Linked DNA regions of Homo sapiens: region 1 is linked to region 2. Evidence: fine-mapped expression QTL. A gene starts in region 2. The other region holds a variant in brackets. All regions are shown on one strand. Distances are between the middles of the regions. Region 1 holds the start of AURKC (aurora kinase C). Region 2 holds the start of ZNF460-AS1 (ZNF460 antisense RNA 1).

Region 1 (8,330 bases), 47 kb before region 2:
CAGGAGAATTGGTTGAACCTGGGAGGCAGAGGTTGCAGTGAGCCGAGATCGCACCACTGCACTCCAGCCTGGGCGACAGAGTGAAACTGCATCTCAAAAAAAAAAAAAAATTCCTCAAGTACAGGAATGCATAATTATTTTGCTATGTACATATCTGATTTTTTAGAGCAGTGCCTGTTGCAAGATAGGCACTCAATCGATACTCATTAAATTAACAATATACACATATATAAAACAGCACTTTCACATGGTTATGAGTGACCTAAGGAAAAACAGAACAGGATGACGTTGTAGTGGGGGCTGTTTTAAATTGACAGTTTGGAGCTGGGCGCAGTGGCTCACACCTGTGATCCCAGTATTTTGGGAAGCCGAGGCGAGTGGATCACCTGAGGTCAGGAGTTCGAGACCAGCCTGGCCAACATGGTGAAACCCTGTCTCTACTAAAAATACAAAAATTAGCCGGGCATGGTGGCAGGTGCCTGTAATCCCAGCTACTCAGGAGGCTGAGGCAGGAGAAATGTTTGAACCTAGGAGGCGGAGGTTGCATGAGCTGAGTTCGAGCCACTGCACTCCAGCCTGGGTGACAGAGCAAGACTCCGTCTCAATAAACAAACAAACAGACAGGTTTGGGAAAGCCTCTGAGAAAGGAATGGTTGGCCTGAGCTAAGCGCCATTACCCTGATCCACCTATTGTAACCACCTAATGGGTTCATTATTTTCCCTGCTCCCCAGATAGAGTCGACTTATCAAGACAGGATAATTGCAATAAAGGGTTTAATTCACATCAATCGAGCTAAATGAGAGACCAGAGTTTTATTACTCAAATAGGTCTCCCCAAATATTTTGAGACGAGCTTTTTTGTTTTTGGGTTTTTTTGTTTTTGTTTTTGTTTTTTTTGAGACAGAGTCTCGTTCTCCTTCTGTCGCCCAGGCTGGAGTGCAGTGGCATGATCTTGGCTCACTGCAACCTCCGCCTCCAGGGTTCAAGCGATTCTCTTGCCTCAGCCTTTTGAGTAGGTGGGATTACAGGCATGCGCCACCACACCCGGCTAATTTTTGTAGTAGAAACGGGGTTTCGCCCTGTTGGCCAGGCTGGTCTCGAACTGCCTACCTCAGGTGATCCGCCCGCCTCGGCCTCCCAAAGTGCTGGGATTACAGGCATGAGCCATCACGCCAGGCCTTCAATTATATTTCTGCAAGATATGTTCCCTGTCTAAAAGAATTCAATTTTTAATGTTTTTGAAACTTATGTGTTTGCTAAACAAATACGTGGGGGCTGATTTTACGATCTGAGGCCAAATCCACAAACTGATTACAGGGTCCAACAAATATTTGGCGAGTGGGAGGAGAGGGGTAAGTGAGCTGGACTGGTGGCGTCCTGGCTGTGAGCAGGCACAGCCGCAGGCTTCAGGGAGCCCCATCGCGGTGACCCTGGAGAGTGGCCTGAATCGGACGTGACCTTGAAGCAAGGTGGTTTTGGGGTCGCCGGCTGCACAAGGCGCGAAGTGGTTTAGGGTCACGGGCTGCACGAGGCTCCAGCACGTCAGGAGTGGGCGTCTGTTCATTCCCACGTGCATCGCGGCTCTCTCCTAGTTGACGCATGCACACCCCGTGGGTGTATGCGTTGTTCATTCCCACAACGGCCATCACCACCTCTCCGCACCCTCTGTCTCCTTCCTTCTCGGGCCTCACCCCTGGCCCTCGCTTTCAGTGCCCAGCCCGGACCGCAGCACTCCAGTTCCGCCCCAACCCGGGAACCCTGGACTGAGGCTCCCGTTTCTGTCCTTTCTATTGGGCGCACTTCCGATGGCGTCAGGAATTTCAGCCAATAGGAGCCAGCCAGGAAGTACCTCTCTGAGCGGTTGGTGCCGGGTATAAAAGAAGGCCGCGCAGCCACGGCTGCTCACGACGCCGCGGATCCCGAAGCCTGTGTAGCAGTGAGACATCAGTGAGGCTGCAGGACGAGCAGGATTGGAAGCGCCCCGGCCAGAAAGTGACCCCCCACCCCTTTCAGGACCCTGTGAACGGGAACAGCCATCCAGAGGGTTCAGGAAGGCGTCCGCGCCCTCACCTCTTCTCCCCATGAGCTCCCCCAGAGCTGTGGTGCAGCTGGGCAAAGCTCAACCTGCAGGCGAAGAGTGTGAGAGCCAGCGCCAGAGAAAGGACGCAGGGAAGGCTGGGGACTGGGCCAGGGGTCGGGTGCACAGAAGACACATGTGTTGACATCTCCCCTCCCTCTCCTCCTCCCCAACGCTCTTCTTTTCTCCCCACTCCCTCCCTTCCCTCCAATTCTTTCTTTCACCTCTCCCTCCCCTACTCTCTCCTCCCCTTCCTTTCTCTCTGCCTCTTCTTCACCTCCTCCTCCCCTCCCTACCTTACCTTACTCTTTCTTCTTCCCCTTACCTCTCCCTCCCCCTCTCCCTGCCTTCCCCTTCCCTCTCTTTCTCTCCTCCCCTTCTTCCCCTCACCTCTCGCTCCCTATTCCCTTCTCTACTGTTCTCCTCTCCTCTCTTTCTCTCCCCTTCTCCTTCCCTCCCCTCTCCCTTCCTATCTCCCTCCTCCTCCTCTCTTTCAGTGGCTACAGCAAACCAAACAGCCCAGCAGCCCAGCAGCCCAGCCATGTGAGTCCCTTGGGATTGGTATCTGGAAAAGGAAGGAAGGTGGGACGTGGGGATGAAGAACAGACTGGGTGTGTGGGGTGCTGGCTCCTGGGAACGAGAACTACTGATAGGGCTGGGTCTGTGTGAGAAGGGAAAGCGGCAGAGGAAGGATACAATGAAAGAGGAAGGGGAGCATTGGCATCCCTGACTTTCCCTCCGCCTACCCTACCTCCCAAGCTGAGGCTTTTTTCTTCCTCTCCTGTCAGGCGGCGCCTCACAGTCGATGACTTTGAAATCGGGCGTCCCCTGGGCAAGGGGAAATTTGGGAATGTGTACCTGGCTCGGCTCAAGGAAAGCCATTTCATTGTGGCCCTGAAGGTTCTCTTCAAGTCGCAGATAGAGAAGGAAGGACTGGAGCACCAGCTGCGCCGGGAAATTGAGATCCAGGCTCATCTACAGTAAGGACAGTCTCTGCTTCCTCTTTCATCTTTGACGTCTGAGCCCAGCATTTTCCCCAAATACTAACCCCAAGTAAACCCTGCACTTGTACCTTGAAGACTTCTCTGCAGTTCATTCCATTTACACTACCTCCTACCCTGGGTCAGACACTCGAATCCTGGTTCCTGTTCTCCGTTCTCCCCTCACTTGCTCCCAGATAGGGCTGTTGTTATTCTGGTCCCAGCATAATTTGCCACTTGTGTGACCAGGCAGTGACGGTGGCATCATATGATAGGCCTCAGGGAGAAATCTGACTCTTCCAACATTAATCCTTCAGACACCCCAATATCCTGCGCCTGTATAACTATTTCCATGATGCACGCCGGGTGTACCTGATTCTGGAATATGCTCCAAGGGGTGAGCTCTACAAGGAGCTGCAGAAAAGCGAGAAATTAGATGAACAGCGCACAGCCACGGTGAGGTGCGGGTCTGGAGGCTCTGGGGTCTCTGAGTTTACTGTGGGCTGGTGGGAGCTCTGTTTGTGGCTGTCAGGAGGGTCCGCATTGCCTTCTGAGAAGTTTACTTCTGAATGTTATTGTGTAAATTTAATATAATGGCACGTATGTTCTACAGCTTTATCCTTGGATACCCTAATTAACCTCATTGTATCTCCAGAATATTAATAAGTACTGCGTATAGGTTTGGATTCTTTGGTTATAAGCAACAGAATCTAACTCCACTGCCTTATGTAAAGAAACATATTGAAAGGCTCTGAAGGAGTTCACTGAATAAATAGCTAGAACTGGCTTAGAGATAGGTACAAAGAGATTTCTAGAGGGTTCCGGAAAGGGAA[C/T]CATGGCAATGATTTTCCCAGGAGCAATGGTCCAATCAGCTTGCTGTGTCAGGATGAGTGGTCTTCCATCTTTCCTCCTGTTTCTGTTTCACTTCCTCGGGCCTCAAGTCCTGTGAGAGATCATCTGAGTGGCTCAATGTAGGTTCTATGTCTGGCTACTTGCTGTGCTAGGACAACAGGGAGGATCTGTGTCCATGTTACCATCCATCCTATAAGACCACATAAAAAGGAGAGGAAAACCACACCCCACACACCAGTAACTGGTGCAATTTAAAAGGAGGAAATGGAGTTACTGGACCAAAAAGATTCCACTGTAATCATACAATTCATGGTAAGTGTTCCACCTCAGACGGAAATTGTGGCAGGCTTCACTTCCAGGGTGACTTTTCTTTGCACCCACAGATAATAGAGGAGTTGGCAGATGCCCTGACCTACTGCCATGACAAGAAAGTGATTCACAGAGATATTAAGCCAGAGAACCTGCTGCTGGGGTTCAGGGGTGAGGTGAAGATTGCAGATTTTGGCTGGTCTGTGCACACCCCCTCCCTGAGGTAGGTCAGGTGGTGGTGGTAGGGTGAGTTCTGAGTACCAGTTAGGAATGACCCAGTTTAATGTATTTCATGTGTCCATGTGTAAAACCTAGATACGAACTTGGGGTTTCTATTGGAATACTGCCTTTTTCTTTTCTTTTCTTTTCTTTTTTTTTTTGAGACAGAGTCTAACTCTTTCACCCAGGCTGGAGTGCAGGGGCACAATCTCGGCCTCCCAGGTTAAAGCGGTTCTACTGCCTCAGTCTCCCAAGTAGCTGGGATAACAGGCATGTGCCACCACACTCGGCTAATTTTTGTATTTTTAGTAGAGACAGGGTTTTGCTATGTTGGCCAGGCTAGTCTCGAACTCCTGACCTCAGGTGATCCGCCCACCTTGGCTTCCCAAAGTGCTGGGATTACAGGCGTCAGCCACCATGCCTGGCTGAACTACTGCCTTTTTCTTTTCTTTTTTTTTTTTTTTTTTTTTGAGACAGAGTTTTGCTCTTGTTGCCCAGGCTAGATTGCAATAGTGTGATCTCGGCTCACTGCAACCTCCCCCTCCCAGGTTCAAGCGATTCTCCTGCCTCAGCCTCCCAAGTAGCTGGGATTACAGGCATGGGCCATCACACCCGGCTGATTTTGTATTTTTAGTAAAGACGGGTTTCACCATGTTGGTCAGGCTGGTCTCCAACTCCTGACCTCAGGTAATCTGCCTGCCTCGGCCTCCCAAAGTGCTGGGATCATAGGCATGAGCCACGATGCCTGGCCAATGCTGCCATTTTCAAACACCTATACTTGATATGTATTCGTAGATTTAAATAATGTGGTCCAATCAAACCTTTTATTTTCTGATCTTTGTTAATATATAACTATACCAGTAAGTTTGCATGTAAATAAAGTCATTGCTCCACAATTCCAAAGGAGTGCATTTTTCTGTATGAATGATTTTCATACAGAAATTTTCTTACCATAATTTATTTACTTGGCTCTCATTGATACACCATCAGTTTGTTCTAGATCTTTCTTAATGCTGAGAATATTCTTGTGAAAACATTCTGGAGCATGAGCTAAATCACTGTGTGAATAATTCCAAAATATGGATTTATTAATAGTAGGCCCCAGTACTTTTCTGAACCTTGATCCATATTAAAAATTTGTCTCTCCAAACTCCTGTGCTTGGGAGGGACTTTCCAGGGTGTCCTAGGGTCTCCACATCTCAATGAAAGCTGGGGAAGGAGAATTTCCCTCATCCTGGGCCTCTGCTTAGTACTTATTCCCTTTTCTGCCTTCCTCTAGGAGGAAGACAATGTGTGGGACACTGGACTACTTGCCGCCAGAAATGATTGAGGGGAGAACATATGATGAAAAGGTGGATTTGTGGTGCATTGGAGTGCTCTGCTATGAGCTGCTGGTGGGATATCCACCCTTTGAGAGCGCCTCCCACAGTGAGACTTACAGACGCATCCTCAAGGTGGGACAGTCACCTTTGGGCATTCATGGGGGAGCTGGTCAGTGATGGCTGCTGGGCTGTGGGCACACACACACACAGGGTTGTCTTCTGTGGTCCAGAACAGCGCCTTAACAAGGCTCAAAGAAGAGGGAGGACATTGATCAAAGAAATTAACCAGACTTCTCTTTCTTCTTTCCTGGCCTCATCAGGTAGATGTGAGGTTTCCACTATCAATGCCTCTGGGGGCCCGGGACTTGATTTCCAGGCTTCTCAGATACCAGCCCTTGGAGAGACTGCCCCTGGCCCAGATCCTGAAGCACCCCTGGGTTCAGGCCCACTCCCGAAGGGTGCTGCCTCCCTGTGCTCAGATGGCTTCCTGAGCCCTGTCTGCCTCTGTTCCCTTTGTGTGTGTTCAGGGAGCTCTCCTGGCTCTGCCACCTCATTTGTCTTTATTTTTTTCTCTTTTAAGATGTAAGATGCTAATTAATAAAAGCTGAATCATTTCATACCAGCTCTTCATAGTTGTGTGAGTTATTATGTGACTGGGTAGAATCTTTATTTCTTGTGGGAACTCTTTCCCATGAGAGCTGCCCAAGGTTGTTCTCCCTGCTACCCCCACCTTCCACCTCGGGAGATGGTGACTTCATTCTTCTGAAAACTCTTGCCTACTTTCAGGTCAGGCACGGTGGCTCACGCCTGTAATTCCAGCACTTTGGAAGGCCAAGGCAGGCGCAACACTTGAGTTCAGGAGTTCAAGGCCAGCCTGGCCAACATGGTAAAACCCTGTCTCTTCTAAAAATACAAAAATTAGCTGGGCGTTGTGGCGGGCACCTATAATCCCACCTACTTGTGAGGCTGAGACATGAGAATTGCTTGAACCTGGGAGGCAGAGGCTACAGTGAGCTGAGATCGTGCCATTGGAGTCCAGCATGGGAGACAGAGTGAGACACCGTCTCAAAAGAAAAGAAAGAAAACTCTTGTCTACTTTCTGCAGATAAATTCCCTGAGGGTACATAAACCTGCCACCTATCACAGTGGCTCCTTGATCCAACTTACTATTCTCCATGTTTTCAGGAGTATGCCATTTGTAAAACAGGACTGTCATCAACCCAAAGGTCCACTCTCTTTTTATGGACATCAATATGCTGCTGTCTCAGAAATAAAATGTTTCACTGCACGTCAGTGCAACCCACTTCTTAAGTGAATACACTAGCACCTCTGTGTTGTGTTGCACTCTGATGACATTAGAATAAGTCATTCCTCATAATAAATGTAATATCACCTCTTCTGAAATTACTGCATGCTGCAATTTGGGGAGTGGCCTTCCAGCCTTCTGTAACCTTCTGTGACAGCTTCATGTGGCAGCTGCTCCCTGCACCCATTATAAACTGACTACCACAGTAAGCATCTAGACTCCTCAGCTGTAAGCTCAAATGTTTTTTGATCAATGCAGTCAGTTACACCAGTATTTCTCCTAACTTTAGTTGTTAAGCACTTTATATGGAGTTTGCCTTGTTAATGTTACTCCTATCATTATATTCTACAAAGTCTCCTCATTGTGAAATATCCAGCAGTTGCAGGCATGATTTCTGCTATGACCAGACCCACTACGTAAGCATAAATAACTCAGCCACTTCACTTGGATGAAAAGCTCCCACTATTGCAGATCTATAAGTTAAATACTCCAAGACATTGGTTCATGGTTTTTAACCTGCACTTTCAGTATTTACCTCTTTTTTGTTTTTTCTTTCTTTTACCTGCATGGGGAGACACAGTGCTTACCTCTATATGCTTTGCTTCATCCTATCAGTTTTCCTGAATTAACATTTTAAACACTTGGCAATTCCTAATAAATTAACTGGTTCACACATATAAACTCTTACACATTTTAGGTGCTGGATAAACACATCACTGGGCACATTTTTGGCAGGTAAGGATAGAAAAATCACTAGGGCCTCAGCACTGATCACCAGATGATATATGTTTAAATAATGAAAACTCTGTCATGCTTTACATGAGGGATTTGAAAGTGTCCCCAGGCCGGGCGTAGTGGCTCACACCTGTAATCCCAGCAATTTGGGAGGCTGAGGCAGGCAGATAAACATGTGAGGTCAGGAGTTCGAGACCAGCCTGACCAACATGGTAAAAACCTGTCTTGACTGAAAAATACAAAAATTAGCTGGCCATGGTGGCTGTAATCCCAGCTACTTGCGAGGCTGAGGCACGAGAATCACTTGAACCTGGGAGGTGGAGGTTGCAGGGAGCCGACATTGCGCCACTGTACTCCAGCCTGGGCAACAAAGTGAGACTCTGTCTCAAAAAAAAAAAATTGTCACCAATATCTACATAGCTTTCTTCAGCAGCACTGATTCCAGACATTCCATGATGGAATATAAATATACTAACTTTAATATCTGTTCTGCATCCAAAGCGAAAACTAATTTAACCCTACGGGTCATA
Region 2 (8,330 bases):
AAGGTTATCTCCTACGTGCATAGAGAAAGGAAAATTTAAGACAGTCTGCGGAGGAGAAGAGACTAGACAAGGTCACGCAGATATTAAACCAGAAATGACTTACTTCCTAGGTGGGGTATCAAACCCAAACTGCCACTGTGAAAGTGCAGAAACCTTAGTTACTGAGCTACAGTGTGGGACGGTGCCTACTTCCTTTCACAGAAGCCTAGAGTAGTTAATTTTGAGCTTGCAAAGGCTTTTAACTATTTTATATGATTTTTAGAGCTGACTATGACATGAACCCTAAAATTCCTTTTCCCTAGTAGGTGGAGACCAAGAGAAGGTACTGCCACATGGTTAAAAGGTCAGGCTCCCAAGGACATAAAACAAGGGGAGACTTCATCCTGTTTGTTTGTTTCAGGGACCTGCAGCTGTTTGTTACTGACCAGTTTGCTGGGTCATGTTGAAAAGTGGGCTCACAGGTGTTCTAAGCCCATGTTTCATCCTACAGAAAAACAAATTCACAGCACAAAATACACCAGTTTGACTAGCTTAGAATTCTTTTTCATATTAATCAAAACTTTACAGAGGAGATACACACTGATTTATTATTTTTATTATTGTTATTATTTTTACCATTCATTCAACCGTTTGCACAGAGAGGGAGAAGTCAGAAATCTGACTGGTAACAAATTCTTACCTTTTTGCTGGCATGCCAGGCTTCTGTGTTCCCTTTCTCTGAGTGGTCCCAGTGATCTGGCTTGTGGCACCATCGCCCTGGGGGCCAAGCCTCATTGTAAAGGAAAACTACTTTTTTTCATTCTGACCAGAGCAAAACACATGTGATGAAACATACACATTAGCCACTCTGCTTAGCACCCAATATTAAACTGGCAAGGCTTAAATTTGCCCCCAGATAGGCCCTGTCATCTTTAATCCAACCTCTGACTTGGAGTTTCAACATGTGGTCTCTGGGCAAGATGGTCGCCCTGAGTAATAGAGTAATAGAAAAGATAAGAAAGGGGCCGGGCGCAGTGGCTCACGCCTGTAATCCCAGCACTTCAGGAGGCCGAGGCGGGCAGATCACAAGGTCAGGAGATCGAGACCATCCTGGCTAAGATGGTGAAACCCCGTCTCTACTAAAAATACAAAAAATTAGCCGGGCATGGTTGCAAGCGCCTGTAGTCCCAGCTACTCGGGAGGCTGAGGCAGGAGAATGGCCTGAACCCGGGAGGTGGAGCTTGCAGTGAGCAGAGATAGCGCCACTGCACTCCAGCCTGGGCGACAGAGCGAGACTCCGTCTCAAAAAAAAAAAAAAAATTATATATGGAAATGCTTTCGCAGGCAATACTTTCCCAGGAAATATTTTCCACAAGCAATACTTTCCCAGGGAAGGCAAAATGATCAGGGAGGCCAGAGAAAGACCCACCCATTGCAGTGACACTGAAAAGTTCAGGCGGCTACGGCTGCTGTCGTGAAGGGATTTTTTTCCAGCAGTCCCGTCAGCTCTCAAGTTTCCCCTTTTGGGGGAGGAAAAAGCTCCCCATGTCCCACGATCCTGTACACGCCTAACCCTGTCGCCCGGAGCCATCAGCAAAGAGTGCAAGGCAGATTAATCCAAAGACAATAGCAGTTAACATCCCACGGTGCCAAACCTCTTCTTAGCCAAGAGGGACTTTACTGAGAGGGGTCTCTAACCCCCTAAATCTTAGAAGGGACTCTAATCCTCCTAAGTTGGGCCTCTAACCCAAGGTCAGTCAAGCGTCCTTGCCTTTTATTAAGAGGGGCCTCTAATCCACTCTGCCTTAGGAGAGACTCTAACTCCCCTAACTTGAGCGTCTATCCCAATCCCATTCTTTACCTGGGTACCCCACCACTTACCCAAAGTCATCCAATCAGTGCTGCAGTCTATTTCCTTTGAGTCAGGGGGGTCTCCTCAGCATTGTCCCTTTTGTGGTTTGCGAGAAAAGTGTTACCCGACCCCACCACTTACCCAAAGTTAGCCTTTGGGTCACGGGTTCCTGCAGTATAGTCTCTTCTGTAGTGGCCAGGAATGTGTTACAGGAAAGGGGTCCCAATCCATATCCCAAGAGAGGGTTCTTGGATCTCGCACAAGAAATAATTCAGGGCGAGTCCACAGTGCAAGTGAAAGCAAGTTTATTAAGAAAGTAAAGGAATAAAGAATGGCTACTCCATAGACAGAGCAGCCCCAAGGGTTGCTGGGTGCCCATGTTTATGGTTATTTCTTAGTGACTTGCTAAACAAGGGGTGGATTGTTCATGCCTCCCCTTTTCAGACCACATAGGGTAACTCCCTGACATTGCCATGGCATTTGTAAACTGTCGTGGCACTGATGGGAGTGTAGCAGTGAGGAAGACCAGAGGTCACTCTTGTCACCATTTTGGTTTTGGTGGTTTTGGCCAGCTCCTTTACTGCAACCTGTTTTATCAGCAAGGTCTTTATGATCCGTATTTTGTGCTGACCTCCTATCTCATCCTGTGACTCAGAATGCCTTAACTGTCTGGGAATGCAGCCTAGTAGGTTTTAGCTTCATTTTACCCAGCTCCTATTTAAGATAGAGTTGCTCTGGTTCATATGCCTCTGAAAAAACCATTTAAATTTAATTATAAGAGTCTGGCCAGAGGGGGTGGCTCACGTCTGTAATCCTAGCACTTTGGGAGGCCGAGGTGGGTGGATCACCTGAGGTCGGGAGTTTGAGACCAGCCTGAACAACATGGAAGAACCCTGTCTCTACTAAAAATATAAAATTAGCCAGGCGTGGTGGCGCACACCTGTAATCCCAGCTACTCAGGAGGCTGAGGCAGGAGAATCGCTTGAACCCGGGAGGCGGAGGTTGCAGTGAGTGGAGACTGTGCCACTGCTCTCCAGCCTGGGCAACAAGAGTGAAACTCCATCTCAAAAAAAAAAAAAAAAAAAAAAAATTTAAGAGTCACAAATATGTGAAAAAGAGAATGATGTCTTTATCAATTTTCAAAAATTACTATTGCCAGTGATGAATAACAGTGTTCCTTGCACACTAATTTAGCCAAAAATATTTCTCCAAAAGTACCGCATCGTGTAGGAAATTGACTCCATCTCCATTCCTTGACTATTTTCAATCTCAAAATTAAATCTCTTGGAGAGTACTTTCTGCACACCTTTCTATTTCCTTAACCATATATATCGTCAAACCATTGAAAGCTGGACTTTATTCTCTCACTTTCATAGTCATGAAAAGAAAAAAAAAAAGTTACTGATGGGGACTCCTAAGACTTCGCATAATATAATCTTTGCATAGTCTAGGATTGTTAAAATTCCTAACAAGACTTTATAAACTCTCCTGTCTGCAACCAGTTAATGCTGGGTTGGGCCAGGGTTCCCCTCTTTCCCGTCACTTATCCATCTACGCTCATTCTTTTCATAGCCTCACCCAATATCATGACTTGAAGTAACAGTTTACAGTAATAACTCCCAAATTTATATATCCACGCTCGAACCCTCTGCCAATGTTGAATCATAGGTTGAGTATATGGCACTACGCTTTGTGGTCTTACTGACGTTTCAAACTGATCATGCTTGAAATGGGAGTACTGGGCTTCCCGGCAAGCCTGCTCCACTAGCAGCCTCCCCACCTCAGGGTACGGGAAGTCCACACGTGGCGAACGCGAAGCCTATTACATCACCCGGAAGTCCCTGCATCCTACGAAGGCTGGGCCCGGCCAAAGGAGGCCCAATAGAGGGCGGTCTGTCCTTTCCCAGCAGGCTGGGCACACTGTCAGGCGTCCTCCTTTGGGTGGCTATTTTAACTGCTCATTTATCCTTTTCTTCTATGAAAAGATCCAGAAAAGAGGCAAAGCAAGCGAGAAGTCGCGGGCCCAGCCCACAGCAGGGTAAGCACCTTTGTTCGGGGTCTGAATCGGGGCGAATATCCCCGCCTCCTGACCTCGATTTTCCTGAGCTAGAAGGGACCTTTCGACCCTCCGACTTGTGCCTATACTAAGGCGGTGGCCCTAAGACGACGCGGGGGTTCTGGTGCGCACTTACGTGCAGTCGGATGCGCTGGGTGAGTTCCCACACCCGGTAGATGTAAGGGAAAAACTGCATTACCCAGAAGGCACTGCCCCTTGCGTCGGCCGCGGACTCTGGGCCATTGACGACCCAGGACAGGAGAGTTTTCTGCGGGCCAGGGCGGCGGAGGCGGGACTTCCGCTTCTTCGTGTGACGTCATCTCCGTGGGCCGGTTTGGCCCTGAAACAGTGTGGGGCCTAGAGCGCTGGGTGGGCGCGTTCTGCGGCCTGAGCAGGGACGGGTAGTGAAGCGGTTACGCCCCTTCTTCGCGTCTTGGCGGGAGCCTGACGCCCCGCTTCTCCCCTAACGAGGTGTCCCACCGGCGCCCGCCGAGGCCTAGGCCTCCGCAGCCGCCCTCCGTCTCCTCAGCCCCGACGCTGCGCCTTGGGCCTTGTGCGCATTTTTTTCGGGGGAAAACTGAGGCTCGGAGTGCGAAAGTCAGCCGAGGTCGCCCCGCCCAGGACAGAGAAGGGCTGTGGTCGGCTGATCCGCGGCATTCCCGGGATGGCGGCGGCGTGGATGGCTCCGGCGCAGGTGAGTGGACGAGGTTTCGGCCTTGCTGCTGCTGTGCTATTTCTAGAGGCCTCGTGGGCAGGCTGGAAGCCAAGACAGCCACAGGATTTTTCTTTGTCGCCATCGTTTATTTAAGAGAAATGGCCGTGGCTTGTCATTTCCTTTATCCGCAGTCCTGCAACAGTGTTGGCCTCTGATAGGTGTTCAGTCCGTGGTTGAAGGAGTGATGCTTCCTTCTAGGGATCTCATCACACTTCCCCTAAATCCAACCTTCTCTGTTGCCTGCCAGCCCGTACCCCATCCACCTGGCCAACCACCCCTGACCTTGTCTGTTTGCATTTTTCCCTGGTCCTTTGCTCTTCAGAGCCACCAACCTGACCGTGCAGTCCTCTTCCATTTTCCAGGCTTTCTCCTTGCACTTCCTTTTACTTCGAACACTGCCCCTGTAACTTTGCAGGGCCTCCCTTTCACATCCTTTTGGCATCTGTCCAGGTGTCACCTATTTGGAGGTGCCTTTTTTGGCAATTCCGGCTAAAGTGGCACCTTACACCCTTGCCCAGAGTCTGGTATTTTTGTGTAGATAATCTGATGGTATTAAAGAAGCTTGTGGATTTGAGTTTGTCAAGGATGTAATGGGAACAAAGAAAAATAATTGCAAAGAATGATATTAACTGTCATTGAGTCCTTGCTGTGGGCTGATCGGTGAGTATTATTTAACCCTCAGTTCGTTTAACCCTGAAATTTTTTTTTTTTTTTTTTTTTTTTTTTGAGACGGAGTCTTGTTCTGTCGCCCAGGCTGGAGTGCAGTGGCGTGACCTCGGCTCACTGCAACCTCCGCCTTTTGGGTTCAAGCGATTCTCCTGCCTCAGCCTCCTGAGTAGCTGGGACTACAGGTGTGCGCCACCACGCCTGGCTAATTTTTGTATTTTTAGTAGAGACGGGGTTTTACCGTGTTGGCCACGCTGGTCTTGAACTCCTGACCTCAGGTGATCCACCCATCTGGGTCTCCCAAAGTGCTGGGATTACTCTTTAGAATTAGGTTCTGTTGTCATCATTGTTTTACACAAGAGCAATTTGAGGGTCACATACGTCCAATTACCTGCCTTACATCACTGTAGCTCTTAAGTTTCTTAAGTCAGAAACTAACAACTGGTGTGTCTAACATCATAGCCTGTGTTTTTACCCTCTTCTTTACCCGCAGTGGTTAGGGAGGCCTGGGGGTGAGACCTAAAGTAACCTTTGCAAGATGAGGCCTCCTTCTAGCCAGTGATCTTGGGCATGAGGAGTCATGGCCTTTCATACTGGTGGAACTGTGTAGACTTAAAAAATGGTATATTGGTTGTTTAAGGAGTTCTCAGGGGACCTGTGTGGCTTCCACGGTGGTTTTATATGTGGTTCCCCTTACTCCCTTACCTGCTGACATATTCTGAGAGGGCACGTTTGTATGGTTATGTTGCTGAATGTACCCTCCTACTCAGCCAGGATAGATGTAATCTCCAGATGGGCCCATATTGTCTTGGCTACAACCTGCTGTGCCCTCTATGACTCTTGTTGCTTGCTCATGGAATCTTCTGGCCTCAGGGATGCCTGCTAGTAGGACTTAGGTAGAAAAGGAAGCGATGGCTCATTGTGAATTCTCCCTGGAAGCAGGTCCAGGCCCTAACACCTGATCAGGTGTCACCACGTCAGGTGATTCTTTGGTGAGGTGGATGATGATGACTACACTTCTCTGCCCTTGTCCATGGGAGTGGCTGAAATGTATATGTGGATTTGAAATGCTTCATTCTCATTAACTGCATTAACTTTGCTAATAGAGAAATGTCAGGTTACATAATCAGACCAGAGGGCCCTGGGCTTAAATCCTGCCTCTGTTGATAAGACCTGTGACTTTGGGCTGGGCTTGGTGGCTCACACCTGTAAACCCTGCACTTTGGGAGGCTGAGGTAGGTGGACTGCTTGAGCCCAGGAGTTCAAGACCAGCCTGGGCAACATGGGAAAACCCTGTCTCTACAAAAAGTACAAAAAATTAGACCGGCATGGCATCATGTGCCTGTAGTCCCAGCTGTGCAGGAGGCTGAGGTGGGAGGATCACTAGATCACAGGAGGTCAGGGTTGCAGTGAGCCGACATTGTGCCACTGCATTCCAGCCTGGGTGACAGAGTGAGACCATCTAAAAAAAAAAAAAAGAGAGAGACATGAACACATGAGACTTTGGGTAGACTGGTAGAGCGGAGGGTAGGACTGAGGCCCAGGTCTCAGGTCCCTGAGTGTGACATAGAGATGATGATGGTAAATTCAGATGCTGTGGCCTTTGCCTCAGTGTTTGTTTGTTTTTTTTTTTTTTTACAAACAGTTTTTCTTTCTTTCTTTGTTTTGATGGAGTCTAGCTCTGTTGCCAGGCTGGAGTTCAGTGGTGCGATCTCGGCTCACTGCAACCATCGCCTCCGACGTTCAAGCGATTCTCCTGCTTCAGCCTCCCGAGTAGCTAGGACTACAGGCACACACTACCACACCCAGCTAATTTTTGTATTTTTAGTAGAGATGGGGTTTCACCTTGCTAGCCAGGATGGTCTCAATTTCCTGACCTCATGATCTGCTCACCTCAGCCTCCGAAACTGCTGGGATTACAGGCATGAGTCACCGTGCCCAGCCTACAAACAGTTTTTCTTTAGTTCTTTTGACTATTCTTTTTTTTTTTTTTTTTTTTTTTTGAGACAGAGGCTCGCTCTGTTCTGGAGTACAGTGACACAGTCTTGGCTTACTGCAACCTCTGCCTCCCAGGTTCAAGCGATTCTCCTGCCTCAGCCTCCCTAGTAGCTGGGATTGCAGGCTTGTGCCACCACACCTGGCTAATTTTTGTATTTTTAGTAGAGATGGGGTCTCACCATGTTGGCCAGGCTTGTCTCGAATTCCTGACCTCAGGTAATTCATGTGCCTCAGCCTCCCAGAGTGCTGGGATTACAGGCATGAACCACCGTGCCCAGCCTTGACTATTCTTGATGAAGTGGGAAACACGGTTATATTGACCTGGAAATGGAGGCTCGGCGAAATGAAATGAGGTCCCCAAGGTCACATAGCAGGCACACGTTGATTTCAGGAATTTGGTTTTAAACCTCAGGAGTCTGGCTCCTGAGCTGGGGAGTTTCAGTCACTTTACCATGGCATGTAAACCTGTCAGCATGAGGCAGGCACACAGGGAGGATTGGTAAGACTCAGATACTGTTCCTGTTATTGTTGCTGGTGGTGATGTTTTTATTATTATTATTTCCCATTCCTCTAATATGTCAGAGCACTTACTGTCTGTGCCTCTCAGTCCACTTGGGATTGTCCTAACCTTATTTCTGTGTTAAGTTCAAGTGGCTTCCTGCCTAGGAGGCTTTATTTATTTATTTATTTATTTATTTTTTATTTATTTATTTATTTTTTTTTGAGACAGAGTCTTGCTCTGTTGCCAGGCTGGAGTGCAGTGGCACGATCTCAGCTCACTGCAATCTCCGCCTCCCAGGTTCAAGCAGTTCTCCTGCCTCAGCCGCTTCTGTCTCCTCTTCACTGCTGTAATCCATGCAAGGCAGTGTCCACATTCCCCTTGATCCTAGCACAGATCTTGGCCCTTTGGAGGTGCTTGGTGATTTGGCCTTTGATTCTCTGTGCATCTTTTGCAGTGCTGGAGTGACAGGTTCTAATCCTATTCCACAGTTGCAAAGGAAACATTACTGGTTCTTTTTGACTTTTCAGGAGTCTGTGACCTTCGAGGATGTGGCTGTGACATT

The links.
Region 1: its variant is fine-mapped to the expression of ZNF460-AS1 in esophagus muscle (GTEx, PIP 0.97).

What each region holds. Positions count from the first base shown.
Region 1 is chr19:57,229,168-57,237,497 of GRCh38, forward strand. It overlaps AURKC (aurora kinase C), which reads left to right and starts at 1,856. Exons shown (of 7, transcript NM_001015878.2): 1 at 1,856-2,139; 2 at 2,575-2,620; 3 at 2,866-3,057; 4 at 3,375-3,513; 5 at 4,293-4,441; 6 at 5,717-5,891; 7 at 6,080-6,381. The coding sequence starts at 2,082. The coding sequence ends at 6,250. The variant C/T (reference allele first, on the strand shown) is at 3,891.
Region 2 is chr19:57,276,256-57,284,585 of GRCh38, forward strand. It overlaps ZNF460-AS1 (ZNF460 antisense RNA 1), which reads right to left and starts at 4,079. Exons shown (of 3, transcript NR_136529.1): 1 at 4,024-4,079; 2 at 680-801. ZNF460 (zinc finger protein 460) reads left to right here and starts at 4,230. Exons shown (of 3, transcript NM_006635.4): 1 at 4,230-4,581; 2 at 8,296-8,330. The coding sequence starts at 4,552. RefSeq lists enhancers at 3,426-4,365, 3,480-4,071, 3,489-4,688, 4,072-4,663, 5,592-5,711 and a silencer at 5,086-5,135.